7 linked regions of the Homo sapiens genome follow. The protein of the gene in region 1 interacts with the protein of each later gene in a biochemical or structural test. Each region holds a gene or a part of one and is shown in the gene's direction. Other genes may lie near its edges.

The links.
Region 2: the proteins of LCP2 (region 1) and ERBB3 form a complex in vitro, tested with the Homo sapiens proteins (one large-scale study listed by BioGRID).
Region 3: the proteins of LCP2 (region 1) and YWHAE form a complex in vitro, tested with the Homo sapiens proteins (one study listed by BioGRID).
Region 4: the proteins of LCP2 (region 1) and ERBB2 form a complex in vitro, tested with the Homo sapiens proteins (one large-scale study listed by BioGRID).
Region 5: the proteins of LCP2 (region 1) and PAG1 form a complex in vitro, tested with the Homo sapiens proteins (one study listed by BioGRID).
Region 6: the proteins of LCP2 (region 1) and GRB2 form a complex in vitro, tested with the Homo sapiens proteins (4 studies listed by BioGRID and IntAct, with this or other methods).
Region 7: the proteins of LCP2 (region 1) and ERBB4 form a complex in vitro, tested with the Homo sapiens proteins (one large-scale study listed by BioGRID).

The regions. Positions count from the first base shown.
Region 1 is NC_000005.10:170,255,998-170,260,221, reverse strand, and holds part of LCP2 (lymphocyte cytosolic protein 2), read left to right. Parts: intron 1-1,343; coding exon 1,344-1,356; intron 1,357-2,055; coding exon 2,056-2,185; intron 2,186-3,646; coding exon 3,647-3,696; intron 3,697-4,224. UniProt on the Homo sapiens protein: Adapter protein primarily involved in signaling pathways within T-cells, as well as other immune cells such as platelets, mast cells, and natural killer (NK) cells.
Region 2 is NC_000012.12:56,089,746-56,093,969, forward strand, and holds part of ERBB3 (receptor tyrosine-protein kinase erbB-3 isoform 1 precursor), read left to right. Parts: intron 1-3,001; coding exon 3,002-3,075; intron 3,076-3,240; coding exon 3,241-3,331; intron 3,332-3,599; coding exon 3,600-3,805; intron 3,806-4,018; coding exon 4,019-4,151; intron 4,152-4,224. UniProt on the Homo sapiens protein: Tyrosine-protein kinase that plays an essential role as cell surface receptor for neuregulins.
Region 3 is NC_000017.11:1,354,885-1,359,108, reverse strand, and holds part of YWHAE (14-3-3 protein epsilon), read left to right. Parts: intron 1-4,224. UniProt on the Homo sapiens protein: Adapter protein implicated in the regulation of a large spectrum of both general and specialized signaling pathways. Binds to a large number of partners, usually by recognition of a phosphoserine or phosphothreonine motif.
Region 4 is NC_000017.11:39,712,972-39,717,195, forward strand, and holds part of ERBB2 (receptor tyrosine-protein kinase erbB-2 isoform a precursor), read left to right. Parts: intron 1-181; coding exon of another isoform or gene 182-298; intron 299-2,314; coding exon 2,315-2,388; intron 2,389-2,474; coding exon 2,475-2,565; intron 2,566-2,747; coding exon of another isoform or gene 2,748-2,768; coding exon 2,769-2,968; intron 2,969-3,299; coding exon of another isoform or gene 3,300-3,329; coding exon 3,330-3,462; intron 3,463-3,543; coding exon 3,544-3,634; intron 3,635-4,095; coding exon of another isoform or gene 4,096-4,197; intron 4,198-4,224. UniProt on the Homo sapiens protein: Protein tyrosine kinase that is part of several cell surface receptor complexes, but that apparently needs a coreceptor for ligand binding. Essential component of a neuregulin-receptor complex, although neuregulins do not interact with it alone.
Region 5 is NC_000008.11:80,986,227-80,990,450, reverse strand, and holds part of PAG1 (phosphoprotein associated with glycosphingolipid-enriched microdomains 1), read left to right. Parts: intron 1-1,184; exon of another isoform or gene 1,185-1,381; intron 1,382-2,984; coding exon 2,985-3,081; intron 3,082-4,224. UniProt on the Homo sapiens protein: Negatively regulates TCR (T-cell antigen receptor)-mediated signaling in T-cells and FCER1 (high affinity immunoglobulin epsilon receptor)-mediated signaling in mast cells.
Region 6 is NC_000017.11:75,332,434-75,336,657, reverse strand, and holds part of GRB2 (growth factor receptor-bound protein 2), read left to right. Parts: intron 1-3,860; coding exon 3,861-3,958; intron 3,959-4,224. UniProt on the Homo sapiens protein: Non-enzymatic adapter protein that plays a pivotal role in precisely regulated signaling cascades from cell surface receptors to cellular responses, including signaling transduction and gene expression.
Region 7 is NC_000002.12:211,418,973-211,423,196, reverse strand, and holds part of ERBB4 (receptor tyrosine-protein kinase erbB-4 isoform JM-a/CYT-1 precursor), read left to right. Parts: intron 1-1,092; coding exon 1,093-1,190; intron 1,191-2,585; coding exon 2,586-2,756; intron 2,757-4,224. UniProt on the Homo sapiens protein: Tyrosine-protein kinase that plays an essential role as cell surface receptor for neuregulins and EGF family members and regulates development of the heart, the central nervous system and the mammary gland, gene transcription, cell proliferation, differentiation, migration and apoptosis.

The DNA.
Region 1 (4,224 bases):
CTGTGGGGCTGAGGGAAGAAAGTGTGCCATGTGGCTCAAGGAGCCAGCAGTGACTTCCTAGAGGAGGTGAGATTTATGCTGGTCATTCAATGATAGGGAGGACACAGAATAGAGTCATTCTTAAAGAAAGCCCATGGGGATTCCCCTCAGGAGTGTCCTGAGCAGGTGGATACCAGTGCCCACGGAGGCTGCAGGGACAGTGAGAACAGTGGCTTGGCTGCAGAGATAGGAACAAGGCAGAGGTAAGGCTGGACAGTGAGGATAACATCACATTCCAGGTTCCCTGTCTCTGGAAGGATTGACACTTGTGCTCATGAGAATCTGGGAGTTGTGTTTTCTGGAACCAGAGGGAATATACTTGCAAAAGTATTGAAAAGTGATTTTGTTGTGTGGGGTTTATGAGCCCATGTGTGTTTATTTATGCAGCTCTTTGCTGGGACTCCCAGTTGGCCAACTGGGATGAATGATTTTGACTGTGGCCTTTTTCGCCTTCTCTCAGTGTGTGATAGGATTGATGATGGCAAACTTTTATTAAAGAGCACTTAACATAAGCCAGACACAAGTAGTAGCTAATTTAATCCTTCTAACAACACTTTGAGAAAGATGCTGTTTCATCATTACAGATCTGGCCTAACCAAACAAGTTCAAGCTGGCCCTTTTGGTCTACTAGTTGGTGGCAACATCATTTTTTCTCTTTGAACCTCATTTCTTATCTGAGTGGAAGAGAAAATAGCCCCTCCCTTGTCTAATTTCCCAAGGTTGCTCTGAAGATAAAAATGGTGAGGGTTGTAGATGAACCTTGTAAGCCACCGTATAAATATGGTCTTATTGATCTTAAGAAGAGTGGCCATTGCAAAAGAGAGCCAAAAAGAAGACTGAGCTTTGGTCAGACATATTTGGGGTTGAATCCATCTCTGCAACTCCTGGCAAGCTAAGGAAGCTTCCTCAGCATCATGCTTTTGTAAAATGAGGATGTTAAATTTTTGGGGGGTCACTAGGGGAACTGAATGAAATCTTGTGTATGAATCTTTTGGACACATTGTAGATATTGTCAATATTATTACATCTTTGGGCCCTTTTAGGCACCTCAGAATCTATTTCATGCTGAGTATATGAGGAGAGTCTCATACTGGAATGCCCTTAGATGACTGTTTGTATTAAGAAATTGTAAAACACTTAGCAACTTCTATTATTCTCCACAGTATATTTATTATGAAGATGTATAACTGCCAGAGAAAGAAACAGATACCTATTTGATTTATTTGATTGAGAAATGCAGTTTTTATTTTAAGAATTGTATTTTGATGATAGCTTAATATCTTTTTTTTTCTTCCCCTTCCCAGGATGAAGATGATGGTATGTTCGGAAACACATTCTTACAGCCTATAACTCATTCTTTCATTTTCCTGCTCAGGCATTCAAGTGGAATTGTTTAGTACAGGAACCCCATAGAATCAATTATAAGTCTTAAATTAGTATTAAGTAGACTTATGTCAATTGGCATACTGCATAACTATCGTAAAATGGATTACTTGGTTAGATTACCGAAGAAGACTAAATTCATGTGTAACAGTGCAGATTATTTAATTGTATCACAAAATGTAAAATTGCATGCATGGTTTGATGGAAACATTTCTCACATTTATGTCTTCTAACACACGTGGGTAAAGAATCAGTAACTGCCAATGAATGAGATAGCATAAAATTTTGACTTTCATAAAACAAAACTTGTAAATCATTTCTGAAATTTATAAGGTTTCCAGCTGACAATTTTCTGCCAAGTTAACATTTCAAAAATGAAAAACAAAATCAATGTGTATTTTAGAGTATCATCTAGATCTGCGCCCCTTTGTAAATGGATTCTATGGTGGTTAAGTCATCTAGAAACACCCTGGGAGCAAGGTTCCATCCTACTACTTCCTAATTACATCTGATCTGCTTTATTTTTGTGTCCTCTTTATACTAGCTGTTTCTAACTGGGGGGCGGTTATGGAATGTTTCTTAGTGACAGCTGGGGCCTGCCAATCTCATTCATTGTTTTCTACTTCTGCACAGTGCATCAGAGACCTTTGCCCCAGCCAGCACTACTTCCTATGAGCTCCAACACTTTCCCTTCAAGATCTACTAAGCCAAGTCCCATGAACCCTCTCCCATCCTCTCACATGCCTGGAGCATTCTCAGAAAGGTTTGTAGCTCTGTCATGAAATTCTAGCTTAATATAATGTTTAGGTCCATCCAGTACTGAAGTAATGCCAGGCAGATTGAGAAAGAAGGAAATGACGGGTAGATAGTAGGGTCTGAACATTTTGGGTCTTAAGACATAAAACCAAACTGAGCATTAAGAACGATATGTTAATCCACCAGTGTCCTCTGAGTCTCTGCTTGAGGTGAGAGGGGTGAGGAATTGACTTCCTCCTTGATCCCTCCAGATAGAATGGGCCTTTTGGTAGAAAACAAAGAATATTTTCACTTTATGAGTTCAAACAAACAACAATAATTAAGAAACCCAGTTAGTCTAAGTACTTGAAGTTCATCTGCATCTTAGTTGGGGAGACTGAGAAAATGCGCCTCGTGCTTGGCTGATGCTAGGAATTCATTGCAGTCTCTGTCCCCCTGTTTTCTCAGTAGCAGCTGTGTTTCTCAGGGCTGGTATGAGGCCGCCCAGGGGCAGATGCATGAACAGGAGAAAGGCCCAGTCATTGTCCCCAAACAAGCCCACGGGCAGCCTGTGGTGTCCCCCAAGTCCTCCAGCCCTGTAGGCTTACCTTCTCCCTTAATATTCAAGGAGAGAAGCCAAGATCCTTCCCTAATATTGTAGAAAACTCAACCACCCACAAGACTCATCTACCCCCACCAACTCCTAGCAGGATTCTCACAATGTTTCCTCTGCCCTGGGACCCTCTGGCCCTGAGTTTCTGCTGCTCTTCTCCCTCTTCCCGCTGGCATCTGCTGCCCTTGTCTGCTGACCCTCCTGCTGCTTTCCTCCATGCTAGCCCCAACCCCATCCTTCATTTGCACAAAATCCCACTCACACAAGGTTGCTGTGCAGAGCAGACTTTTCCCAAAGGTTTAGACTGATGGGTGCAGGAGTTGCTGCTCAGTGTGGAGGGAACAGACTGCATTTCAGGGCCCTCTGGGCCCGCCTCCCCACCCCAGCCCTGCAAATGCTATCACCGTCTGCTGCAGAGCCCACCTAACATGCACTTCCCTTCTCACCTGGCTTACTCTCTCCTTGCAGACCCTAAGCCCTGGGGATTCACTGCTCACCAAAGACAAGCCCATTAATATAATTTCCTAGCAAAAGGGAAGTCTTCTGAGAAGAGGACTTCTGTATTCTCCCAACTCAAAGAGCTCAAGTTGCAGCCAATTTTTAAAGTAACTGTTAAGTGCCCTTTACACAGTTGAATGTTGTTGCTGTTCTGCTTTATAAAGCTTGTTAGACTTTGGCATGGTCCACAGCGGAATGTAGTTCCATTCCCTGTGTGCTGTGTTCTGTCCCTGTGCCCAGCCCCCATGGTTTTGGGGGCAGCAGGGAAAGTGATACCAAATCAAGAAGCATTTGCAGCCTGGCTTCCCTAACCCAGCTCCCCTGTCTGGCCCCATCACCCCAATCCAAATAAATTTTGTTCTTTTTCTGTCTCCTCAGTAACAGCAGTTTTCCACAGAGTGCCTCCCTGCCACCATACTTCTCTCAAGGTTTGTACTCTGGGCTTTTGTGACGTGCTTCAGCCATCAAGCCTTTATGACTGGATCCCTAACCTGTCCCAAAAGCTTTCGACAAAGGTTTTATTGTTTCCTAAAAGCATCTGATTTCCTCATTCAACATTTAATTCCGTGTCTGCAGTGTGCCAAGGGCTGTCGGAATGATAGGATAGTACCTAAAACACAACACATACACACACACGTATACATATACATGCCCATACACACATGCACATATACATGCACACACACACATGCATACACATGTACACATATATACATGTGCACACAGGTATACACATATATACACATACACAATACATGCACACACATGCACATGCATACACACATACATACATGGACACACCTACACACACTTCACCAGGAAGCCAGCCCTCATCCCCAATCTTCCTGTGCAGAACTATTCCTCCAGCTCCGGTTTCCCTACGGAATCCTCAGAATCCTGTTTGCCTTTCTCTGCAGTTTTAGATTTCCATGATCAATCTGTCCATGGTTGTGAGT
Region 2 (4,224 bases), on another chromosome or scaffold:
AAAAAAAAAAGAAAAGAAAAGAAAATTCTGTCTCCCCATGACTTTTAGCTGTTTTCACTCATTCTGCTCCTTGGAGCAAAAAGAACAAAGGGACTTTCTAGTCTATAGGACAGCATTTAAAATGTGTGTGTGTGTGTAAAAAAAACCCACTATGACCACCTGTTTTTTTTTTTCCTTTAATTTTTTATTTTGACATAATTTTAGATCTACACTAAAGTTGCAAGAATGGTATAAAATTCCCCATATACTTTTTTTTTTTTTTTAAGACAAAGTCTCACTCTGTTCCCCAGGCTAGAGTGCAGTGGTGCAATCTTGGCTCACTGCAACCTCCGCCTCCTCTGCCTCCCGGGTTCAAGCAATTCTCCTGCCTCAGTCTCCTGAGTAGCTGGAATTATAGGTGTGTGCCATCATGCCCGGCTAATTTTTGTATTTTTAGTAGAGACAGGGTTTCACCATGTAGGCCAGGCTGGTCTCGAACTCCTGACCTCAAGTGATCCACCCGCCCCAGCTTCCCAAAGTGTTGGGATTACAAGTGTGAGCCACCGCGTCTGGCCCCCCATACACTCTTTTACCCAGATCCTCCAAATGTTAACATACCACATATGGCCGGGCACAGTGGCTCATGCCTATAATCCCAGCACTTTGGGAGGCTGAGGCAGGTGGATCACTAGGTGTGGATCACGAGGTCAAGAGATTGAGACCATCCTGGCCAACATGGTGAAACCTCATCTCTACTAAAAATACAAAAATTAGCTGGGCGTGGTGGTGTGCGCCTGTAGTCCCAGTTACTCAGGAGGCTGAGGCAGGAGAATAGCTTGAACCTGGCAGGCAGAGGTTGCAGTGAGCCGAGATCGCGGCACTGCACTCCAGCCTGGTGAAAGAGCGAGACTCTGTCCCCCGCCAAAAAAAATACCACATACGCTTTATCACTTCTCTCTCTCTCTGTCTCTCTCTACACACACACACACACACACAAAACACATGCTATTGTTTTTCTGGACCACGTGAGGGTAAATTTTCACACATGGTTCTTTCTTACCCCTGTTATATTTCAGCGTATATTCCTTAAAAATAATATTTTCTTACATAACCACAGCATAGTTGTTTGAATCGGAAAATTAACATTAACACAAAATATTATCTAAGCTACAGACCTTATTCAGATTTCACTAATTGTCCTCCTAAGGTTTGGGATCATACATTACATTCAGTTATCGTGGCACTTCAATCTCCTTTATAACAGCTCCTCAGGTTTTGTTTATCTTTCATGATATTCTTGATGAGTATAGATTAGGTAATGGGCAGCATGTTCTTCAGTTTGGATTAGTTTGATGTGTCCTCATGATTAGATTCAAGTTTTTGTAGTTTTTTTTTGAGACAAGGTCTGGCTCTATTGCCCAGGCTGGAATACAGTGGCATGATCTCAGCTCACTGCAACCTCTGCCTCCCGTGCTCAAGCGAGCACCTCAGCCCCCTGAGTAGCTGGGATTACAGGTGCATGCCACCATGCTTGGCTAATTTTATATATATATATATATATATATATATATAAATAATATATATAAATATAAATATATATATATAAATAATATATATAAATATATATAAACATAAATATTATATACTATTTATATATTTATATATGTGTGTGTATATATATATATATTTTTTTTTTTTTTTGAGACGGAGTCTCGCTCTTGTTGCCCAGGCTGGAGTGCAGTGGCGTGATCTCAGCTCACGCAACCTCCACCTCTCAGGTTCAAGCCATTCTCTATAGAGACAGGGTTGCACCATGTTGTCCAGGATGGTCTCGAACTCATGAGCTCAAGTGATCCTCCTGTCTCAGCCTCCCAAAGTGCTGGGATTATAGGCATGCGCCGCTGCCAGGCTGGAGTTTGATAAGAACACCACAGAGGCTGTGAGCTCAGGGCATCCTATTGAGGATGTACGTGATGTTGATTTGTCCCAGCACTCACAATGATGTCTCTGGTCACTTAGTTAAGGTGATATCTGTCAGGTTTTTCTACTGTAAAGTTACTATTTTTCCATTCACAATTAATGAATGTCTTGGGATAATTGCCTGAATCAATTATTGTTATGATAGTTGCCAAATGATAATTTTCTAATTCCATTATTCCTTCTGCATTTGTTTGTTGGCATTCTACTGTTAGGAAGAGTCTTTCCAGCTGAGCACAGTGGCTTATGCCTGTAATCTCAGCCCTTTGGGAGCCAGTGGGAAAATTGCTTGGGCCCAGGAGTTCAAGGTTACAGTGAGCTATGATGGCACTACTGCTCTCCAGCCAGTGCACTCACTCTGCACAACAGAGTGAGACCCTGTCTCTTAAAAAAAAAAAAAAAAAAAGGCCAGGTGCAGTGGCTCATGCCTGTAATTCCAGCACTTTGGGAGGCCGAGGCGGGCGGATCACAAGGTCAGGAGTTCAAGACCAGCCTGGCCAGCATGGTGAAACCCTGTCTCTACTAAAAATACAAAAAATTAGCCAGGCATGGTGGTGTGCTCCTGTATTCCCAGCTACTTAGGAAGCTGAGGCAGGAGAATCACTTGAACCCAGGAGGTGGAGGTTGCAGTGAGCTGAGATTGCTGCCACTGTACTCCAGCCTGGGCGATAGAGCAAGACTCTGTCTCAAAAAAAAAAAAAAAAAAAAAAAAAAAAAAAGGTCTTCCTTTCCTATTTACTCTTATGGATACTTATTTTATTCTAGTCAATGGTTATAATCCTTTACAATCATTATTTATTTTAGCCAGCCCCTCCAAGTTGGCTCCTGTGTTCTTTGGGCTGTACCCTTAATTCTTTGAGTCTTGTCTTGTTTGCACAAGATGCTCTGGGCTTATATTATATTTCCCCCATCCCAGCCATTTCTCCAAGGAATGTTTCCTTTTAGTGGAGAATGATATTTAGAAACCAAATGCTGAGGCTGGGTGTGCTCATTGCCATTGAGTTATACCTTTACCTTATTGACTGGTTTCTACTGTTCTATTCAGAGACCCCTGGCACAAGATCCCTGCCCTGGACCCAGAGAAGCTCAATGTCTTCCGGACAGTACGGGAGATCACAGGTGAGTGGCAGAGAGTTTGCCCTTTCTAGAAGAATAGGTGAACCACTGGCATAAATTGCGGTATAACTACTTGAGAAAATCACGTCCCAAGTTATAGGGGAGGAGCCAGGAGAACCCAAGAAAGAAGAAGGCTCCCTGCCCATATGCCTCTCTCCAACCCCTCAGGTTACCTGAACATCCAGTCCTGGCCGCCCCACATGCACAACTTCAGTGTTTTTTCCAATTTGACAACCATTGGAGGCAGAAGCCTCTACAAGTGAGTAAAGGGTATGGAGGAAATGGCATCTTCAGGCAATGAAGCCTGTGTCATAGGCATTCTTTAGTAAAATACAAGGCACTGTCTCATACAGCAGTGCCTCAAAACCAAAGGGTTTCAGAGTTTCACGAGGAAAAGGCAAAAGGAGGGGGATTCCCTCTCAGTGGATCTGACTAGCACTGAGCAAATTTCTTGACTAACATGAATCCTTTGAATAGTTAATGTTCCCTTAGTAGTCTCTCCTCTCATCCTGTCTCCTTATTCTCAGCCGGGGCTTCTCATTGTTGATCATGAAGAACTTGAATGTCACATCTCTGGGCTTCCGATCCCTGAAGGAAATTAGTGCTGGGCGTATCTATATAAGTGCCAATAGGCAGCTCTGCTACCACCACTCTTTGAACTGGACCAAGGTGCTTCGGGGGCCTACGGAAGAGCGACTAGACATCAAGCATAATCGGCCGCGCAGAGACTGCGGTGAGGGAAAGGGTCTGCTAGGTGGTGAGAATAGGGAGTCAGGGAGGAGAGGGCTGAAAGGACTATTCTGCCCTAGACGTGGGAGTAGGGTTGAGGGATGGAACCAAGGAGAAGGGGGCTGTTAGGCTGGAAGCAGTAACGAGGAAGAATAATGAAGAGAGGGCTTGCTGGGAGTCCTCAGACTCCTCTCCTAACCCACCCCTTCCTTTCCAGTGGCAGAGGGCAAAGTGTGTGACCCACTGTGCTCCTCTGGGGGATGCTGGGGCCCAGGCCCTGGTCAGTGCTTGTCCTGTCGAAATTATAGCCGAGGAGGTGTCTGTGTGACCCACTGCAACTTTCTGAATGGGTACAGTAAGGGGAGCCAGTCAAGGATGGGTGGGGGTGGGGCCCTGCAATGGAACTGTTCAGGTGGCATACAA
Region 3 (4,224 bases), on another chromosome or scaffold:
GCTGGAGTGCAGTGGCGTGATCTTGGCCCACTGCAACCTCTGCCTTCCAGGTTCAAGCGATTCTCCTGCCTCAGCATCCAAAGTAGCTGGGATTATAGGCGCCTGCCACCATGCCTGGCTAATTTTTTGTATTTTTAGTAGGGATGGGGTTTCACAGTGTTGGCCAGGCTAGTCTCGAACTCCTGACCTCGTGTGATCTGCCCGCCTCGGCCTCCCAAAGTTCTGGGATTACAGGTGTGAGCCACTGTGCTTGGCCAGCCCTTTTTTTTTTTTTTTTTTAAGATGGAGTCTCGCTCTGCTGGCCAGGCTGGAGTACAGTGGTGCGATCGCAGCTCACTGCAACCTCCACCTCCCAGATTCAAGCGATTCTGGTGCTTCAGCCTCTCAAGTAGCTGGGATTACAGGCATGTGCCACCATGCTTGGCTAATTTTTGGGGGCATTTTTAGTAGAGACGAGGTTTCACTATCTTGGTTAGGCTGGTCTCAAACTCCTGACCTCAGCCTCCCTCCCAAAGTGCTGGGATTACAGGCATGAGCCACTGCGCCCGGCCAATTTTTAAATTTTTTTTGGGCTGCGTGCAGTGGCTCACGCCTGTAATCCCAGCACTTTGGGAGGCCGAGGAGGGCAGATCACGAGGTCAGGAGATCGAGACCATCGTGGCTAACGTGGTGAAACCCCGTCTCTACTAAAAATACAAAAAATCAGCCGGGCGTGGTGGCGGGCGCCTGTAGTCCCAGCTACTCGGGAGGCTGAGGCAGGAGAATGGCGTGAACCTGGGAGGCGGAACTTGCAGTGAGCCAAGATCACGCCACTGCACTCCAGCCTGGGCGACAGAGCGAGACTCCGTCTCAAAAAAAAAATTTTTTTTTGTTGTTTTGTTTTGTAGAGGCAGGGTCTGGCTGTGTTGCCGAAGCTGGTCTTGAAATCCTGGCCTCAAGTAATCCTCTTGCCTTAGCCTCCCAAAATGCTGAGAATACAGGCCTGAGCCACTGCACCAGGCCCTTTTGCCCATTTTTGAATTCATGTTTTTTTCGTTTGTTAAGTGTTGAGAGTTCATTATTCCAGATAGTAACCTCTTAGCAAGTAAATGGTTTGTGAGTATTTTCTCCTCTTCTGTAGGTTGGCATTTTGTTGTTGTTGTTGTTTTTTGCTATTGTCTTTTTCTTTTTTTTTTTCCCCCGAGAGGAGAGTCTCGCTGTGTTTCCCAGGCTGGAGTGCAGTGGTGCAATCTCAGCTCACTGCAACCTCTGCCTCCCGGTTTCAAGCGATTCTCCTGCTTCAGCCTCCCAGGTAGCTGGGATTACAGACGCCCGCCACCATACCCAGCTAATTTTTGTATTTTTATGTAGAGATGGGTTTTCACAGTGTTGGCCAGGCTGGTCTTGGACACCTCACCTTAAGTGATCCAGCCACCTCGGCCTCCCAAAGTGCCGAGATTACAGGCGTGAGCCACTGCACCCAGCCTATTTTAAATTTTTACAGTAAATATTGCAGTAGCAAAATGGTTTTTTTGCTTTTTTTTTTTATTTTGACGGAGTCTCACTCTGCTGCTGTGGCTGGAGTACAGTGGCGTGATCTCAGCTCACTGAAAGCTCAGCCTCCTGGGTTCAGGCGATTCTCTCGCCTCAGCCTCCCAAGTAGCTGGTACTACAGGCACCCGCCACCACGCCCGGTTAATTTTTTGTATTTTTTTTTTTTTTTTTTTGAGACGGAGTCTCGCTATGTCCCCCAGGCTGGAGTGCAGTAGCGCGATCTCGGCTCACTGCAAGCTCTGCCTCCCGGGTTCACGCCATTCTCCTGCCTCAGCCTCCCGAGTAGCTGGGACTACAGGCGCCCGCCACCACGCCCGGCTAATTTTTGGTATTTTTAGTAGAGATGGGGTTTCACCGTGTTAGCCAGGATGGTCTCGATCTCCTGACCTCGTGATCCACCCGCCTCGGCCTCCCAAAGTGCTGGGATTACAGGTGTGAGCCACCGCGCCCGGCCTATTTTTTGTATTTTTAATAGAGATGGGGTTTCCCTGTGTTAGCCAGGATGGTCTCGATCTCCTGACCTCGTGATCTGCCCTCCTCGGCCTCCCAAAGTGCTGGGATTACAGGCGTGAGCCACCGCGCCCGGCCCCTTTTGGTTTTTGTATGTGTTTTTTTTTGGTTTGTTTGAGGACAACTGCTTAAGCAAAGTAGGGTTTTTAAGTGAAAGCCTTTCAAAGTTTGAGGAAAGGGGATTAACTGATACATTGGAACTTTAATGTTGACTATTATAGGCATGCTTCACTGCGCTTGACTGAATTTTTTTTTTTTTTTGCATTTTTAGTAGAGACAGGTTTTCACCATCTTGGTCAGGCTGGTCTCGAACTCCTGACCTCAGGTGATCCACCTGCCTCAGCCTCCCAGAGTGCTGGGATTACAGGCGTGAGCCACTGCGCCCAGCCAATGTAAAAACATTCTAAATGGCTAGTTGAGTTTGTCCAGATAGGGATCGTAACTGAAGAAGCTGTGGCTATTTAGCTAATACTGGTGGTTGCACCTTTCCTTGTCAGACTCCAGTCTAGCTGTCCCACGTGTAGCTCCAGTTTAAAGTCACTCGCATGCCTTTGCTCATGCTTCTGCTTAAACCTGAAGTGTGTTTTGTTTTCTCCTTATCCATTGAGATTAGTTCAAATTTGACTTTCCCTTTAATTGCTCCTCCTTCTGGGTCCCTGAAATACTTTATTTGGAATAGCACTTCATTCTTCTTCTTCTTTTGTTTTTGTGCTCTCTTGCCCAGGCTGGAGTGCATTGGCACAGTTTCACCTCACTGCAACCTCCGCCTCCCAGGTTCAAGGGATTCTTCTGCCTCAGCCTCCTGAGTAGCTGGGATTACAGGCATACGCCACCATGCCCGGCTAATTTTGTGTGTGTGTGTGTGTGTGTGTGTGTGTGTGTGTGTGTGTGTGTTTTTAGACGGAGTCTTGCTCTGTTGCCCAGGCTGGACTGCAGTGGCGTGATCTCGGCTCACTGCAGGCTCCGCCTCCTGGGTTCACACCATTCTCCTGCCTCATCCTCCCAAGTAGCTGGGACTACAGGCACCTGCCACTGCTCCCGGCTAATTTTTTTGTATTTTTAGTAGAGACGGGGTTTCACTGTGTTAGCCAGGATGGTCTCGATCTCCTAACCACGTGATCCGCCCGCTTCTGCCTCCCAAAGTGCTGGGATTACAGGCTTGAGCCACTGCACCCGGCCTAATTTTTTGTGTTTTTAATAGGTTTTGCCATGGTGGCCCGGCTGGTCTTGAACTCCTGGCCTCAAGTGATCTGCGCGCACGCATCAGCCACCCAAAGTGTGCTGATTACAGGCATGAGCCACCACAGCCAGCCTCCTCCTTGTAAAATAGTTATGTATTTGTCTACCCTCCATTTCTAAATTTTTAAGTTGATGTGGACTTAGATTATGTCTCTTTTTTTTCTATTGGTATATCGTATCGTTTGTTGGACATAGTACACAGTACTCAGTAAGTGTGGATTTTCTTTTAAAACTGTAAATGGCTTACATAATCACATTTCCATGGCGTCTGTGTTGCCTTTTATTTTCTTTGCTTCCCTGCCTCCATTAACGTGAAATTAAATTTTTTTAAACTTTGAGGTATTGTCCAAGATTTTCTTTTTGCATTAATACTTTGTTAAATATCTCAACCTTGTAATCCAGCACTTTGGGAGGCTGAGGCGGGCACATCACGAGGTCAGAAGATCAAGACCATCCTGGCTAACACGGTGAAACCCTGCCTCTGCTAAAAATATAAAAACAAATCAGCCGGGTGTGGTGGCGGGCGCCTGTAGTCCCGGCTACTCGGGAGGCTGAGGCAGGATAATGGTGTGAACCCAGGAGGCGGAGCTTGCATTTAGCCTACATCCCGCCACTGCACTCCAGCCTGGGTGATAGAGCGAGACCCCGTCCCCCAAAAAAAAAAAAAAAAAAAAAAAATTTTTTTTTTTTTTTTTTTTTTTTTTTTTTTTAAAAAATCTTGGGGGTGGTAGTGTGTACCGTTTGTCCCAGCCACTCAAGAGGCTAAGGTTCGGAAGATTGCTTGAACGCAGGAGTTCAAGTCCAGCCTGGGCAACATAACGAATCCCTTAAAAAAAAAAAAAAAAAAAAAAAAAAAAAAAAACTAGGCTGGGCGCGGTGGCTCACGCCTGTAATCCCAGCACTTTGGGATGCTGAGGCTGGTGGATCACGAGGTCAGGAGAT
Region 4 (4,224 bases), on another chromosome or scaffold:
GGTTGCCCCAGGGTGGGGGGCTTCAAAAGGGAGGCACACAAGGACATTTCTGGGGTAATAGAAATGCTCTGTATAGTGATTGGGGTAGTGGATACATGAGCGAATCCATTTGTCAAAACTCATCAAACTGTGTGATAAGAGTCTGTGCATTTTATTTATTTCATTTTATTTTTTGAGATAGAGTCTCACTCTGTCAGCAGGCTGGAGTGCAGTGGTACGATCTTGGCTCACTGCAACCTCTGCCTCCTGGATTCAAGCAATTCTCCTGCCTCAGTCTCCTGAGTAGCTGGGACTACAGGTGTGTGCCACCATGCCCAGCTAATTTTTGTATTTTTAATAGAGATGGGGTTTCACCATGTTGGCAAGGATGGTCTCGATCTCTTGACGTCGTGATCCGCCCACCTCAGCCTCCCAAAGTGCTGGGATTACAGGCATGAGCCACCACACCCGGTGCATTTTATTGTATATAAGTTATACTTCAATAAGAAATGAATTGGGGCCAGGCACGGTGGCTCACGCCTGTAATCCCAGCACTTTGGGAGGCCGAGGCAGGCAGATCACTTGAGGTCAGGAGTTCAAGACCAGCCTGGCCAACATGGTGAAACCCCATCTCTACTAAAAAATATAAAAAATTAGCCAGGCTTCCTGGCATGCGCCTATCATCCCAGCTACTTGGGAGGCTGAGGCAGGAGAATTGCATGAACTCGGGAGGTGGAGGTTGTAGTGAGCTGAGATTTCGCTATTGCACTCCAGCCTGGGCGACAGAGTGAGACCCTGTCTCAAAAAGAAAAAAAAAAAAAAGGGTCAGGCGCCGTGGTGCACACCTGTAATCCCAGCACTTTGGGAGGCTGAAGCAGGAAGATTGCTTGAGCCCAGGAATTCAAGAACAGCGTGGGCAACATAGTGAGATCCCATCTCTACAAAAAAACACAAAAAATTAGCCGGGCATGGTGGTACGCACCTGTAGTCTCAGCTACTAGGGAGACTGAGGTGGGAGAATCACCTGAGCCTGGGAGGTGGAGGTTGCAGTGGGTTGAAATCATGTCACTGTACTCCAGCCTGGGTGACAGAATGAGACCCTGTCTCAAAAAAAAAAAAAAAAAAAAAATTCCCTTTCACACTTCCTTTACCTCCACTCCCCTTTCCAGAGGGGGCCATGGTTAACAGTGTGTGTGTTCACCTAGACCGTTTATGCATCTGTAGACACACACACAGTGAAGTGTGGTTTTCGTCGTTTTGGTGGGGAGGTTGGTTTCTGTAAATGGGAACATATAGGGAGCACTGTCTGCACCTTGCTTTGAGAGCCGGTCATGACAGTTCCCATTGAACTGCCTTGTTCTTTCAATAGCTGCAGAGCAGGTGGCGGCAAGGAGAGGCAGCTAAGAGCCCAGACTTGGGAGCCAGACTGCCTGGGTTTGAAACCCGGCTCTACCACTTACTAGGCATGTGACCCTTGTGCTGTGCCTCAGTTTCTTCATCTGTAAAGTGGGGGCAAGAACAGTCCCAACTTCATAAGATGGTTATACCACCATGCCTGGCCAGATGATTATAAAGTTTGAATGAGTTAATATTTGTAAAGCTCTTAGAACAGTGCCTGGCAGATACTAGGTGCTCCTAAATGTTGGTTTTTATTATGTGGCTGGGTGGCTCGGGGTTTTATTTAACAGCTCCCCTATTTACTAATAGACATTTAGATCATGTTCCATTTTCACTCTTACAAACAGTTCCACTTTGTGTGTGGCTCTGGGAACATGGGCCAGTGTCTCCCTAGGCCACATTCCTAGAAATAAGATTTCTTTTCTTTTTTTTTTTTTTTTGAGACAGAGTCTCGCTTTATCGCCAGGCTGGTGTGCAGTAGTGTGATCTCGGCTCACTGCAACCTCTGCCTCCCGGGTTCAAGTGATTCTCCTGCCTCAGCCTCTCGAGTAACTGGGACTATAGGCGCGCGGCACCACACCCAGCTAATTTTTGTATTTGTAGTAGAGATGGGGTTTCACCATGTTGGCCAGGATGGTCTCCATCTCTTGACTTCGTGATCCGCCCGCCTCGGCCTCCCAAAGTGCTGGGATTACAGGCGTGAGCCACTGAGCCCAGGCAGAAATAAGATTTCTAGATCAAAGGATATAAATACTGTTTTGATAGATGTTGCCGAACTAAGGCCTGGGCTTTGAAGCCCAGGATGGGAACAGCTGGGCTCGATGGGCAAAGGGTTTGAGTGAAGGCATTCATGGTGGGGAGTGGCTGGCATGGCCAGTGCTGGGAGTGATGTCCACCCTGTTCCTGGCCCTGCTGACTCCTCTCCTGACCCCTCCAGGGACCCAGCCTCCAACACTGCCCCGCTCCAGCCAGAGCAGCTCCAAGTGTTTGAGACTCTGGAAGAGATCACAGGTGGGCTCTGTCTCTGCATCCTGTTCTGCAGGGGCTGGGAGTCCTTGTCCTGTCCCCACTCCTTTAATCTCACCCTCTGCCTGCAGGTTACCTATACATCTCAGCATGGCCGGACAGCCTGCCTGACCTCAGCGTCTTCCAGAACCTGCAAGTAATCCGGGGACGAATTCTGCACAAGTGAGCACTGAGAAAGAGGGGGCCTGATGGGGAGGAGTCCCAGGGAGGAGTCCCTGTGGGAAGCTTTGGGCCTGAGGGAGTACTCCTGTAGCAGTAACCTTTCCATGAAAGTCTGCAGAGTGTGCTGGGGATGGAGGAAGATGAGAATAGCCTTTGCTGACCGGGAAGGGGTCCGTGGTAAGGTGCCCACCTTTCTCCCATAGTGGCGCCTACTCGCTGACCCTGCAAGGGCTGGGCATCAGCTGGCTGGGGCTGCGCTCACTGAGGGAACTGGGCAGTGGACTGGCCCTCATCCACCATAACACCCACCTCTGCTTCGTGCACACGGTGCCCTGGGACCAGCTCTTTCGGAACCCGCACCAAGCTCTGCTCCACACTGCCAACCGGCCAGAGGACGAGTGTGGTAAGACAGGGAGCCCAGTGTGCGCACTCCCCATCTGCCAGCACACAGCAGTGCCCAGGGGGCCCTGGCAGCAGCGTTCTTGGACTTGTGCAGACTGCCCGTCTCTGTGCACCCTTCTTGACTCAGCACAGCTCTGGCTGGCTTGGCCTCTTGGCATGGCTTCTCTAGCTGGGTCCTACCTGCCTTGGCATCCTTCCCTCCCCCTCTGTTTCTGAAATCTCAGAACTCTTCCTCTCCCTACATCGGCCCCACCTGTCCCCACCCCTCCAGCCCACAGCCATGCCCACAGCCAGTTCCCTGGTTCACTTGGACCTGGGGCCTCCCCTAAAAGTCCCCTGCGGTCCCTTCCTCCTCACTGCAGTGGGCGAGGGCCTGGCCTGCCACCAGCTGTGCGCCCGAGGGCACTGCTGGGGTCCAGGGCCCACCCAGTGTGTCAACTGCAGCCAGTTCCTTCGGGGCCAGGAGTGCGTGGAGGAATGCCGAGTACTGCAGGGGTATGAGGGGCGGAGGAGAGGGTGGCTGGAGGGGTGCATGGGGCTCCTCTCAGACCCCCTCACCACTGTCCCTTCTCTCAGGCTCCCCAGGGAGTATGTGAATGCCAGGCACTGTTTGCCGTGCCACCCTGAGTGTCAGCCCCAGAATGGCTCAGTGACCTGTTTTGGACCGGTGAGCTGCTGGCGGGCTCAGAGCTGGGTGGAGGGGGGCAGCGAGGGGGATTGCCAGGGACTTGGCAGGATGGCGAGATGCAGTAGGGTGTGCTATCTGGTAAAATATCCCTGGAGAGGGCTCAGCGCTCAGACCTGAACAGCAACAGAGTGGCAGAAAAGGGGCCTGGGGGACACTGGGGCCCTTCAGACTATGAAAAGGTTCTAAGGAGGTCTGTGTTGGTGGCTGTGACTGTGGCTGTGCTAGGGTGGTGAGCCCTGTGGGCTCAGGCGTCAGACTACCTGGATTCAGACCCAGCTCCTGCTTCCAACCTTGGTTTTTTATTCCTAAAATGGGTATTGTAATAATACCTACCTTGCTGGGGTGTGGCAAGAATGAAATTAAACAGGGCTTGGCACAGTGAAGCACGGGAAAGGCTTTCTACAGAGCAGTGACTGTTGTTACTCGCTGTTACACCTTAGGTAATGCGTTTTCCTCTCTGGGTGCCTCCCATTTTCTGGCTCAAGTCCCTGCCCAGGATCAAGCTTGGAGGAGGGCCCCGAGGGAGGGGCCACAGAGACTGGGTGAAGAGCAAGGGTGTTTGTCCCAGG
Region 5 (4,224 bases), on another chromosome or scaffold:
AGCAAAAACTGGTTGGGAGGAGAGGGTGCAAACAAGGAAGCATGGATGAGCCAAGGTCTGGCGTAAAACCCGCAGCCAGCAGACGTTTGCAGAGATGACCAGGGGCATCTCCAGTCTAGGCTTCCTGACCTGCCAATTCTCAGGACTCCTCTGGCCCAAGCAGGCAGGAAGTTGTCAGGACTCCCCGTTCCTCCTGGGACCCCCAGGATTTTCCTTCCCTCCCCTCTGCATCCACATGCCCACCTCACCCTTCGCAGCTTTCCTGGGCCCTCATCACCACTCCTCCCTTTACTCTGTTTCTCGCCCTGTTCCCATCCCTGGTTGTCCACATTGTCGCCACTTCTCATCTGTTCCCAGCGCCCCTGCTCTGCCTGGTGATTGCTGCTGTGGTGGCCTCAGCAGGGAGGGTGGGAGGGATGGAGGGAACGCCCCACTGTCGCTTCTCCCCATGCAGACTCCAGGCCCCTGCCTTTCGTCACTCCACCATTCTCCTGGTGCCAGTTGGGTGGTGAGGTGGGGCTGGGGAAGGGCTCCCACCGCCATTCCTCACTTCCTTCTAGAGCAGGGGTTCTTCTGCAGTGTGGCCTGGACCTCCACCCACAGCAGCAGCAGCACCTGGGAGCTCCTTAGAAATGCGAATTTTCCTGGGGGTGAGGCCCAGTAAAAGGCTCGCAAGCACCCCAGGTGATCCAGTTGTATGCTCGAGTGTGAGAGCCACTGGCCTAGAGCTTGGGTTCCCGCTGTTCTACTCAAGGTCAGCAGCAGCCCTGGGCGAGATAGGAAGAGAGTGGCAGGTGGATAAAAGGAAAAAGCTGGCTTCCATCCCCTGCCTTCTTCCTCATCCACCATATAATTCATTATTGCCCCAACCCATAGCCTCATTTATATGGATGTGAATGTCTGTGAGAGAGCGCGAGCACACACAGGAACGCATGCTTACCCGGACACTGGCACCCATGTACACACGCTCGCCCACCCAGCTCTCCTTAAGAGCTTTTCAGCTCCTAGATCTTATACAACTTGCGGATTCTTCATCTCATAGAAGCAAAGATTAGGAATAGTAGTTAGAGTCTAGATTATGGTAACTTCAGCTGTGATCGATTATGCTGTTATGGGCCCACCTGGGAGTCTTCCTTCCCCACACCCATGCCTGCCCATTTATAACATCATTTCTGGGATATTAGCACCTGCATTGCAAGTTCCTGGCAACCTAACACAGTGACCCATCTCACTGGGGGCTCATCAGACGTGAATGAGCTGCATTGGATGGAAACAGCTGACTTCCAATACACTTTTGGATCATTGCACAGCATGAACTATCTGCTGTGTATTACTGGCTTCCAATCAAGAGTCAGAGAATTTGTGAGGCCAACTAGCAAAGGTTTGTGTGCTGTTTACATCACAACTTTCCTTGTAGAATCCTGGAGCATGAGATAGCCTCTTGGAACGTGCAGGCTGTGAGAAGAACAGGGAGCAAATCACATTTGCAGTGATTTGGGCTGCAACCTGAGACAAGTTGGGTATTTAAAGAAATACATGAACACCAACTTGCTTTCTGACTACTCTTAGCTATAGCTGAGCCAGGCATATTGTTCTAGGTAGCATCTACACATTCTATCCCTGCAGAAAACCAACTATTGATGCCATTCTTCCCTCCAAATGTCCTAAGTTTATTTGTAAGAATAAGAAAGATTTGCAGAGCTGGGCACAGTGGCTCACGCCTGTAATCCCAGCACTTTGGGAGGCTGGGGTGGGCATATCGCTTGAGGCCAGGAGTTCGAGACCAGCCTGAGCAACATAGCAAGATCCCATCTCTTATGGGAGCAGCCAGACATAGTGGTGCATACCTGTAGTCCCACCGATTCCAGAGGCTGAGGCAGGAGGATCTCTTGGGCCCAGGAGTTTGAGACTTCAGTGAGCTATAATCATGCTACTGCACTCCAGCCTGGGCAACAAGGTGAGACCTCATCTTAAAAAATAAATAAATAAATAAATAAAAAGTTTGCAGAGCTAATTTTCAGCATATTATTGTTTCTGTGAACCTAGCAGCCAGAGGCTTTGCTGGTTCTAAAATAGTTTCAGAAATCAATAGCCTTATCTATCTCTGACCAGATTTAAGTCTGTTCCCTTCACATGACAAAGGGTGATGCCTTTCCACGTTTCTCATAGCATGGCACACCTTTACCAATAATGATTTACAGCACCTGTGTTGTAAGGATGAGGCTGCTGTGGTCTTTTTCAACCAGTTCCCTTCCTGCCTTGAGCTAAGGGAATTGATATCTCACAACCTGCCTATAGCCCTGTGTAGGTCACCAGGCAGGAAGCTCTGCACATGGCTTTGGAAGATTCCCAGTGCCCCTAAGATTCTGGGACAACAGTGTCTAATAGAACTTTCTGCAGTGCTGGAAGTGTTCTGTATCTCCTATTGGATATGGTATCCACTGGCCACATGTGGCTATTGAGCGCTTGAAATGTGACTAGTCAACAAGGAACTCAATTTAGTGTATTTTATTTTACTTAATTTAAATCTAAAAACAGTAGCTCCCCTTAATCTGTAGTTTTGATTTCTGCAGTTTCAGTTACCCACAGTCAACCACAATCCAAAAATAGGTGAGAACCATACAAGATATTTTGAGAGAAAGGAAGAGCACATTCACATAACTTTCATTATATTATATTGTTTTATTGTCAGTGGTTATTGTTAAATTACTGTACTTATAAATTAAACATCATCATAGGTATAACATATATGGATAGGAAAAGACATAGTCTATATAGGGTTCAGTACTACTCATGGTTTTAGGCATCCACTGGGGGTCTTGAAATGTACCCTCTGTAGATAAGGGGGGACTATTATAGGAGATTCTGTTTTCTGTTTCTGCTGTTTTAATTTTTTGAAAAAGCCATGGATCTTCTCCTCTGCTCTGCAGTCCAGATTCTTAGCAATGTGATGCATTTGTTTTTGTTTTTGTTTTTGTTTTCAGCCTTCAGACAAGGAGATGTTCAGCCGTTCAGTTACTAGCCTGGCAACAGATGCTCCTGCCAGCAGTGAGCAGAATGGGGCACTCACCAATGGGGACAGTAAGTTCTGCAAAAACACCAGCTTTCCACACAGGCCTCATCACCTCTGGAAGTCCTAGGTTTCAAAATACATAGCTCAAAAAGTAGGAAATGTGTTATTGCTCAGTTTTAGTATTCCTAGCAGTTTTAGCAGAACCCCTCATTTGGATGAATACTGCTACTTATTAATCCACTTCTGTGTGCCAGGCATTGTTCTAAGACTGGTACATGTACTAATTCATTTGCTCTTTTAGTACATTTTAGTACATTTACATGTACTAATTCATTTACCCCACGAGATTACTGTTATTAATAATAACACTACTCTGTAAGATAGGTATTATTACTCCTCACAATTTAAAGGTGACAAAACTGGGCACATTGCTGCTGTAACAATATTACCACAAACCTCATGCCTTAAAATAACAATTTATTGACTTGCAATTCTGAGGTCAGGAGTCTGAAATGGGTCTCACTGGGCTAAAATCAGGGCATCCGTAGGCCTGTGGTCCTTCCTGAAGCCTCAAGGAGAATCCATTGGCCTCTCCCTCATTCTTCACATCCCTCTCTGACCCTCCCCCCTCCCTATTCACTTATAGGGACCCTTGTGATTACACTGGGCCCACCTGGATAATCCAGGCTTCCCTCTCATCCGGGAGTCATCTAATTAACAGCCTTAATTCCACCTGTAGCCCTAATCCCTCCATACCCTCCACAAAACATTACACATTCACAAGTTCCAGGAATTAGGAGACAGACATTTTTCAGGGTCGTTCTGCCTTCCACAGAGATGTTGCTAATTTGCCTGATATCATATAGTCAGCGGGCTAAGGATCTGTAGTTGGAACCAGGCAGTCTGATCCCTGGGCACGCACTCAGTCACTCTGCATAACCTCTGCATCATGCATTGTGTACTCTTGCTGATGGAAGGAGCAGCTAGGTTTCCTTCATGCTTTAGAGTTTACACCATGCTTTTACCTGAGGTAAGAGGGCGTCCTGTTACCCCTGTTTACTGATGAGGAAACTGTGGGGTAATCAGGACACCAGTGCCTGTTCTCTGTCTACCATGATGTAGACAACTAGAACCAGAGAGCAAAAGTTCACCCCCTCCGTGATGATCAGGGATTTAGAACACACAGGGGTGTTGGTAAGTTCAGAAGGATT
Region 6 (4,224 bases), on another chromosome or scaffold:
GTTCTGTAGACAGCCATAGTTCTAAGTTGATGTCAAATCTAGGAGTTGCCCTGGAGTTGTGTTTGTTGGGGGAGGGGACACTTTTTAGAGGGATTTGCCTCTGTCTTGGTAAAGGTGACAAGAAGAGAGTGTAGCTCTATGAACTCCTGGCAGGTAAATAGAGTTATCTTTTTCTGCAAAGTTATTGGTCACAAATCAAAAGTGTCCCTTTCTAATGATTACTTTGTTCTGTTTTGATGCACAAATAGGTTACAAGCAGCTCTTTGTCAGTCTGACTCTCTGTCTTCCAAGAACAAGTGTATACAGTAAAAGTAGACACACCTCACCATTTCAGGAGTTAAGACATTTTCAAAAACTCTTCATAGCTGGTATGGGTGCACGCACCTGTAGTCCCAGCTACTCCAGCCTGAGCAACGTAGACTCTGTCTCTGAAATAAAATAATAAATATTGTTTATAAGCCTGTGGGGTTTTTATTATTACTATAGGATGATGCTTTATAAGGTCATTATTAGACCACATTTTCCTTCTAGACCTTATTTTTGGTAGATAACAGAATCCTGGCCTTAAATAACTTTTAAAGTAGCTCCTTTTCTCAAAGGCTATTCAGAGTTTTCTGTGCTGCCAGTACAGGGGCAGGTGGTGGTGGCCCGGCAGGGTTCAAGCGCACTTTCCCTCCTCAAACTTGTCCTTGGTGTGTGCTTTATAATTGTCTATCAATACAGCACCATTGCTGGCTGCAGCACAATGCAGTGTTTTTAAAATGAAGACTTAAAAATTATGAGTGTACCTTGCATATATTGTTTTATCTCATTCCAGTCTTTGATGTGATTTTTTTACGAGAAACAAAATGATGACTAGAAGAAAGTTTTCATCAATACTCTATCAATATTTATGTGACTCTTGGAAACTTTGAATACACTGGGATTTACCACTAGCTAATTTTTTTTGAGAGTTTGCTACACATATTTATTAGCTCTTTCAGGATTTATCACCTTATCCTAAGCATTGAAACCCAGTGTCTGGCACCTGCAGTCAGAGTGTGGTAAGCATAGCAGATAAGCACCAGCATTGCAAAGCTCTGCAGGGCATACCCTCTGTTAAGAAAGCGTAGTCATTAATGCAGCCTGGCTAGTTGTCGATCATCTGTCATTCTTATCTACCCTTTCTATTGCATCTCACTTTGAATGGCAGTACACAGACAGCACTCACTTTAGAGCAATCCAGCTTCTGATTGGCTACGAGTACAGCATTGTTCAACATCTTGAATAAATCATTTTGTAAAGAATGTTACCAGTTTCCTCTCAGAACTTTGTTATGCAGTGTAGATTACCACTGTACTAGCCAACATTTTCCTGGGCCCACCATTTTGGGGTTGTATTCACATTTTTGTTTTATCTTTTACCAACTTTATGCCTTCTGCCCTTTGCCTTTTGTTGTAAGTCTAGAATTCATAGGGTGGCTTTCACGCTGTACCTGATTCTGTTCTGCTCCGTATATACTAGTCCCCCCTTACCTGCGGCCAGTTGCAATCCAACATATAAATAACATATTTTGGCCAATCGCAGTGGCTCACACCTGTAATCTCAACACTTAGGTAAGCTGAGGCAGGAGGATACTTGAGCGCAGGAGTTCAAGACCAGCCTGGGCAACATGGCAAGTGCCTATAGTCCCAGGTACTCAGGAGGCTGAAATGGGAGGATAGCTTGAACCCAGGAAGTTGAGATGCCATGAGCCGTGATGGTGTCACTGTACTCCAGACTGGGCAGCAGAGCAAGACCCTGACTCAAAAAAAAAAAAAAAAGATATTTTGAGAGATAACACATTCACATAAATTTTTATTACAGTATATTGTTATAACTTTTCTTTTACACTTTTTAAATATAAAGACAGGGTCTCACTATGTTGCCCAGGCTGGTCCTAAACTCCTGGGCTAAAGCAGTCTTCCCACCTTAGCCTTCCAAACTGCCAGGATTACAGGTTTGAGCCAGCACACCTGGCCTGTTAAAACTTTTCTATTTTACTACTAGTCATCATTAATCTCTTACTGTGCCTAATTTACAAATTAAACTTATAGGTAGGACTGGCATGGTGGCTCACACCTGTAATCTCAGCACTTTGGGAGGCTGAGGCAGGAGAATCCCTTGAGTCCAGGAGTTCAAGACTAGCCTGGGCAAAATAAATAAATCGGCTGGGCACGGTGGCTCGTGCCTGTAATCCCAGCACTTTGGGAGGCCGAGTCGGGTGGATCACAAGGTCAGGAGATCGAGACCATCCTGGCTAACATGGTGAAACCCCGTCTCTACTAAAAAATACAAAAAATTAGCCGGGCGTGGTGGCAGGCGCCTGTAGTCCCAGCCACTCGGGAGGCTGAGGCAAGAGAATGGCGTGAACCCGGGAGGCAGAGCTTGCAGTGAGCCGAGATCGCGCCACTGCACTCCAGCCTGGGCGACAGAGCGAGACTCTGTCTCAAAAAAAAATAAATAAATAAATCTAAAAAAAAATAAAACGTATAGGTATGTGTATAGTGTAGGAAAAAGCATAGCATATCTAGAGTCCTGTACTATCCACGGTTTCAGGCACCCACTGGAGGTCTTGAAACGTATCCATCATGATAAGGAGGACTACTGTATTACTCTACACATTACAGCGTCATGGCCTAGCCTATGCATGGCCTGGTACATGCAATTCAAGAGGCAGCATTGGAGAGAACGGTCATTGGAAATATGAAAGTCTGGGCATGATGTTAGCTCTGTGGGGTCACTACCTCGTAACCTGGGTTGACCATTGATCTTGTTTTTTTACATCTGTAGAATGCAGTGGTTCAGTTCCAGGATTTCCAAGGCATCTGCCTGAATTCTGCTGGTTGATATGCTTTCAGCACTATCTAACTTTAATACAATGTGGCATTTGGGTTATTGAACTGAGTAGGATTTGCCATGCTTTTTCCTGAAAATAGTTTTCCCATACGAGGGCATATGGTTGTCCTCACAAGCAGCAGTGTTCTGGAGCTGTTTGGTGGGTGACCCGTACTTGCGGTAACCCAGAGAAGCCATGAGGGGATCCAGGACTGTATCACTGTAGATTCTGGAGGTCGGTTGGAAGATCTCTAGAGGAGTCTAATAAAAGGTTCTGTTGCTGCTTAGTTCTGCTGTGACACCTCTCTCTCCCAGAAAGTAGACTTTGTCTTCGTCAGGCTCCCTTATTCTCCTATGTGTTTGCCATTTTCCAGAACCTCTTCTCCAGGTTTCTCTCTTAGAAAAACCAAACCAAACAAAAAAACTGGCCGGGCACAGTGGCTCACACCTATAATCCCAGCAATTTGAGAGGCCAAGGTGGGCAGATCACCTGAGGCCAGGAGTTCAAGACCAGCCTGGCCAACATGGTGAAACCCCATCTCTACTAAAAATACAAAAATTAGCTGGGCAACGTGGCATGCGCCTGTAATCCCAGCTACTCGGGAGGCTGTGGCAGGAGAATCGCCTGAACCCAGGAGGTGGAGGTTGCAGTGAGCCAAGATCGCGCCACTGCACTTCAGCCTGGGCGACAGAGCAAGACTCCGTCTTAAAAAAAAAAAACAACTAATACTTGCCATTCTTCTTTCTCCTTCCTTACTGAGGGTTTCATTCCAGATGTTTGGGAGCCTGAATTTTCATTTTCAGAGATAATTTCTGTTTCATTTTAACAGAGTTTAACATAATGCTGGTTGTTTGAAGTTAAAAGGAGTCTTATATCCGTATAACTGATAATACTTCGAGTGAAACCGTTCACAGACCTAAAAGATAGCATAATTGTCTTGTAACTATCTTTTTAAAGGGAAAAGGAAATGATTGGGTTTTTTTGTTGTCTTATTTCTTTTCAGGTTTTGAACGAAGAATGTGATCAGAACTGGTACAAGGCAGAGCTTAATGGAAAAGACGGCTTCATTCCCAAGAACTACATAGAAATGAAACCACATCCGTAAGTTAAGCTCCATTAGTCTTGGAAGGGTTGGACCCACCTCCTTGTTTCAAACACTCTTTTTAAAATTGAGATCACTGGGATGGATGTCATACTTTTTATTCACGTTTCTAGGGAATTAACAAAGGATATTGATTGTGCATGTTAATAGTATATAATAATATATCATAGTCAATAATATTATATGTTTTAGATTGATAATAACTGTCAGTGATCTTCAAAAATAAAACGATAGTTGGTGCAGGTCCGTAATTCTTTTTCTGTTA
Region 7 (4,224 bases), on another chromosome or scaffold:
GGAAAGAAACCGATACCTCAACTGTGGTTAACCTTTTTTGGCTTCAATAGTTTCAGAAACACCTGTTTTCTCATTAGCATCTTGGCATTAGCAAGCATTTTTTCAAATGAATGCATATAGAATACAGAGCATTTGAGCTTTGTTTGGGGAGAAAAAAAGCAGATGACATTAATGATACATAAAATGACACCCAAAAAATTCCCAGAATAGGAATAAAAACTGAACTCCCGGAAAAGGAAGGAACAAGCTTTACAGCCTTATTCTATTAAATATTGTTTGGTAGACATCTATGGAAGAAAGTTTAAAAACATGCATGTCTTATATAATTTAATCCTGTAACTAGCATAGGAAATGATTTAAACTCATCAGAATTTAGCTCTGATGAAATTAATTATGTAAAACCAAGAAAACACTTTCCCTAATGGAGAATTTTACCTTTCTTTCGGGGTTTTAATACCTAAGAAGAGGATAATTTGGCAAGAAAATCAAGGAAAGCTTGATACTTTTATTCTTGTCATCTCATTAGCTAAACAGAGCCTGTAGAGATAAGGTCTGCTTTATCTAGACTCCCAGCTAAATAAGAATACATACCTTGAAAATTGCTGATAGTATTTTTATACTAGACAAGCTAGTACTAAGATAAGCTAATGTCTATTGCTGAACAGGCATTACCAATCACTTTGCATTAGTTTTTTTTTTTTTTTTTTTGTCCACCAGGACAAATGTAGCACAAGAAAGTTGCTTTTAATTCCTCTTTTCCCGTTTGTGCCAGTGTAAGCATTGTAACCAAATCTTCTCTCCTATGTCACTCCTAATACAAAATAATAACTTATATTGCAGTCACGTCTATACACATCAGAGAAAAAATTTATCTTTTGTTTTACAGTACATTACATTTAGTTATGAATATCAACAAAGAGACCGATAAAGCCTTACCAATTGAGTCGTTTCTTTCACTAGCTTGCTTTCTTTCTCAGATCATTACGATTAAAACAACATTTTTCAAACTTTTGCTCATATTTTCACAAAATTTAAATTTCAACTCCTTTCTAGTTACGAATATAGTGACATTTTCACTGTGTAAATTTCCAGGTTGGATGATTGATGCTGACAGTAGACCTAAATTTAAGGAACTGGCTGCTGAGTTTTCAAGGATGGCTCGAGACCCTCAAAGATACCTAGTTATTCAGGTGAGTACATTTGACTTATGCCTTTAAGACTAGGCCAATGGCAAACTCACTGCAAAATGAGTAGTATCAGGACTTTGGAACTGTGGAAAGGACCACAAACATGTTGATTAATTAAGCAGAATTATCATGTGACATGACTTATGGAAAAGAGCTTTTTATTTCACGTCAGATCCACCTTTTAGCACCTTCCCTTAGTATTCAAGTGGCTCTGCTACTGAACAGATAATTATGATTATACATATACATAAAGAGGTCTTAATCCTCAGACACTTATTTTAGCACCTTGATTTTATTAACATTATGTGTAAGTCATGTTCATTAGTATAATTTTCTTTTTTCGGAACAAAAGGAAGACAGATTTTTGTTTTAATCTTGCCCATGCTTGAAGACAGTGAATCAAAAGTTTCAGTATATTATTTAATTTCCCCAAAAATATTTTAAAATATGTTTTGTTTTATTTGGAGAGATATGCAGTATCTAAGCAATAACTCAATTCAAATGAATTGATGCACATTTTAATCAACCAACCAAAGAAATATTTTATATTTAACACTAGAAAAATAGATAGACTTGGATAATTAAAAAATAATAATATATTTCTCTAGGATTAATTTCACCTAAACTCTAAACAAATGGGCCTTGGACTAGAGTGTATTATGTTTCCTCAGTAAAGCAAGGTAGCCTTTATTTTCATATCGACAGTCTGACATAAAGATAAAAGCTAGGTTTTAGAAGATACTTATTTCCATTTATTTTTTCCCCAAAATTAGTTTTCATGAACTGAAATTGTTTCCAAAAATTATGTAACTTTAAAAATATAGGAAAAATACTTAAGAAATAGACGAGGTGAGGAAGAGCATAACAAAGGTTTTGGTGTCTTTCTCATACTCCTTTACTCTATTTGCCACTTGCACTGTGAGTTTTGAATGCCCCTACTTTGATAATGCAGTCAGTATGCTATAGAATAAAGTATAGACCCTATGGTCCTGATAATCCTACAGCATCAAACCAACCAAATAAACGTTGATAAATTGATCACCTTTTATTGTTTATTCTTAAAGTTGCAACCCATACACTATCTGGGCAATGAACAATTATTTTCAGACCTGAAATTGATTTTACCTCCCTAAAAACATCTTTTGATTTTGCTTTATTATTCTCTAATGGCATTTATCATATTCTCCTTGTATAAAGTTTGTTTACCTGGCCCTATCATTTCTAAGCATGTTATAGGTTTCTTAATGGCCGGTGGTTGTGCTAAAGACTTGTTTTTTTAAAATGTGTGTATGAATTTTTCAACCATTTGTTATGATATTACATAAATTTATTGCAGAGACCACATATTTAAGATAAGAAAGAATCATATTTGTGTCTGATGGGCAATCTTTCTTTTAGGGTGATGATCGTATGAAGCTTCCCAGTCCAAATGACAGCAAGTTCTTTCAGAATCTCTTGGATGAAGAGGATTTGGAAGATATGATGGATGCTGAGGAGTACTTGGTCCCTCAGGCTTTCAACATCCCACCTCCCATCTATACTTCCAGAGCAAGAATTGACTCGAATAGGGTAAGAAATAATTATATACACATATCATATTCTTTCTGAGATATAAAATCATGTAATAGTTCATAAGCACTAACATTTCAAAATAATTATATAGCTCAAATCAATGTGATGCCTAGATTAAAAATATACCATACCCACAAAAGATGTGCCAATCTTGCTATATGTAGTTAATTTTGGAAGACAAGCATGGACAATACAACATGTACTCTGAAATACCTTCAAGATTTCAGAAGCAAAACATTTTCCTCATCTTAATTTATTTAAAACAAATCTTAACTTTAAAAAACAATTCCAACTAATAAAACCATTATGTGTATATAAATAAATGAAAATTCCTACCAAGTAGGCTTTCTACTTTTCTTTCTTAAAAAGATATTATGATATATTAGTCAAGAAGTAATACAAGTATAAATCTCTTTCACTTATTTAAGAAAAATTAAATATTTTCTGTCAAGTTGAAGTAGAAACACAGAAAACCGTGCAGTCCTTTGAACCTAATCACATCGAAAAGGCTGCTGAGAAGTAGATTTTTGTTTTTAAGAAGTAGATTTAAGTTTTGAAGGAAGTTTCTGAAAACACTTTACATTTTAAATGTTAAACCTACTCTATATGAATTCCATTCTTTCTTTGAAAGCTGTCAAATCCATGCATTTATTTTTATAAATTCATTCCTCATACATTCAACATATATTGAGTACCACTGTATGTGAAGCATTAGTATACATTTAAGACTCAAAGAATTTTGATACAACTTCTGCTTTCAAGAAGTGAAAACCTTAATCAAAGAATCATACAGATAGAGGGACTGCATAGTAAGTGCTGTAATCCAGTATTCACTGACCAGTACGGAGCATGAAGAAGTAGTAAATTTGTGTCTGTAATCAGTTTCTTCCATTGATAAGATATAAACATGATGCTTAATTTTTTCTAGAAGATAATTCTTTTCTCTTAATCTAAGAACATTATCATAGCTAGTAGAACCGACAGCATCCGATTTCTCTTGACCATAGCCATAAGAATATTTTCAACTTGCTGCTCATTATCTAACAAACATAATTTTCTTTATTTCATATTGATTGTAATAAGTAATATTCCCCTGGTGTTTACTATTCAACACATATATGTTAACCTCCTTAATCCTTAAACAAACTTCATGAGGTTCTATTATTATCATCCCCTTCTTTCAAAGGAAGAAACTTGCCACAGAGAAGTCAGGTGATATGACTGGTGTCACACAGCTAGTCAGTGGAAGAGAGGAATAATGTAATCTAGATATCTGCCTACTACACTGTAGGTTTGCTTCAAAGTTACTGAAGCATGTTATTTCCATGATGTGATTAGAGTCTGGGACTTGTCTTGTTTGGGAAATTTCCCAGGTGGTTTTCTTATAAAATGCATCTCAAATCTGCTCTACACCTTTTACTCATCTACCTCCATTTAGAAGATCTGATATGGAAAGAGACAAAGA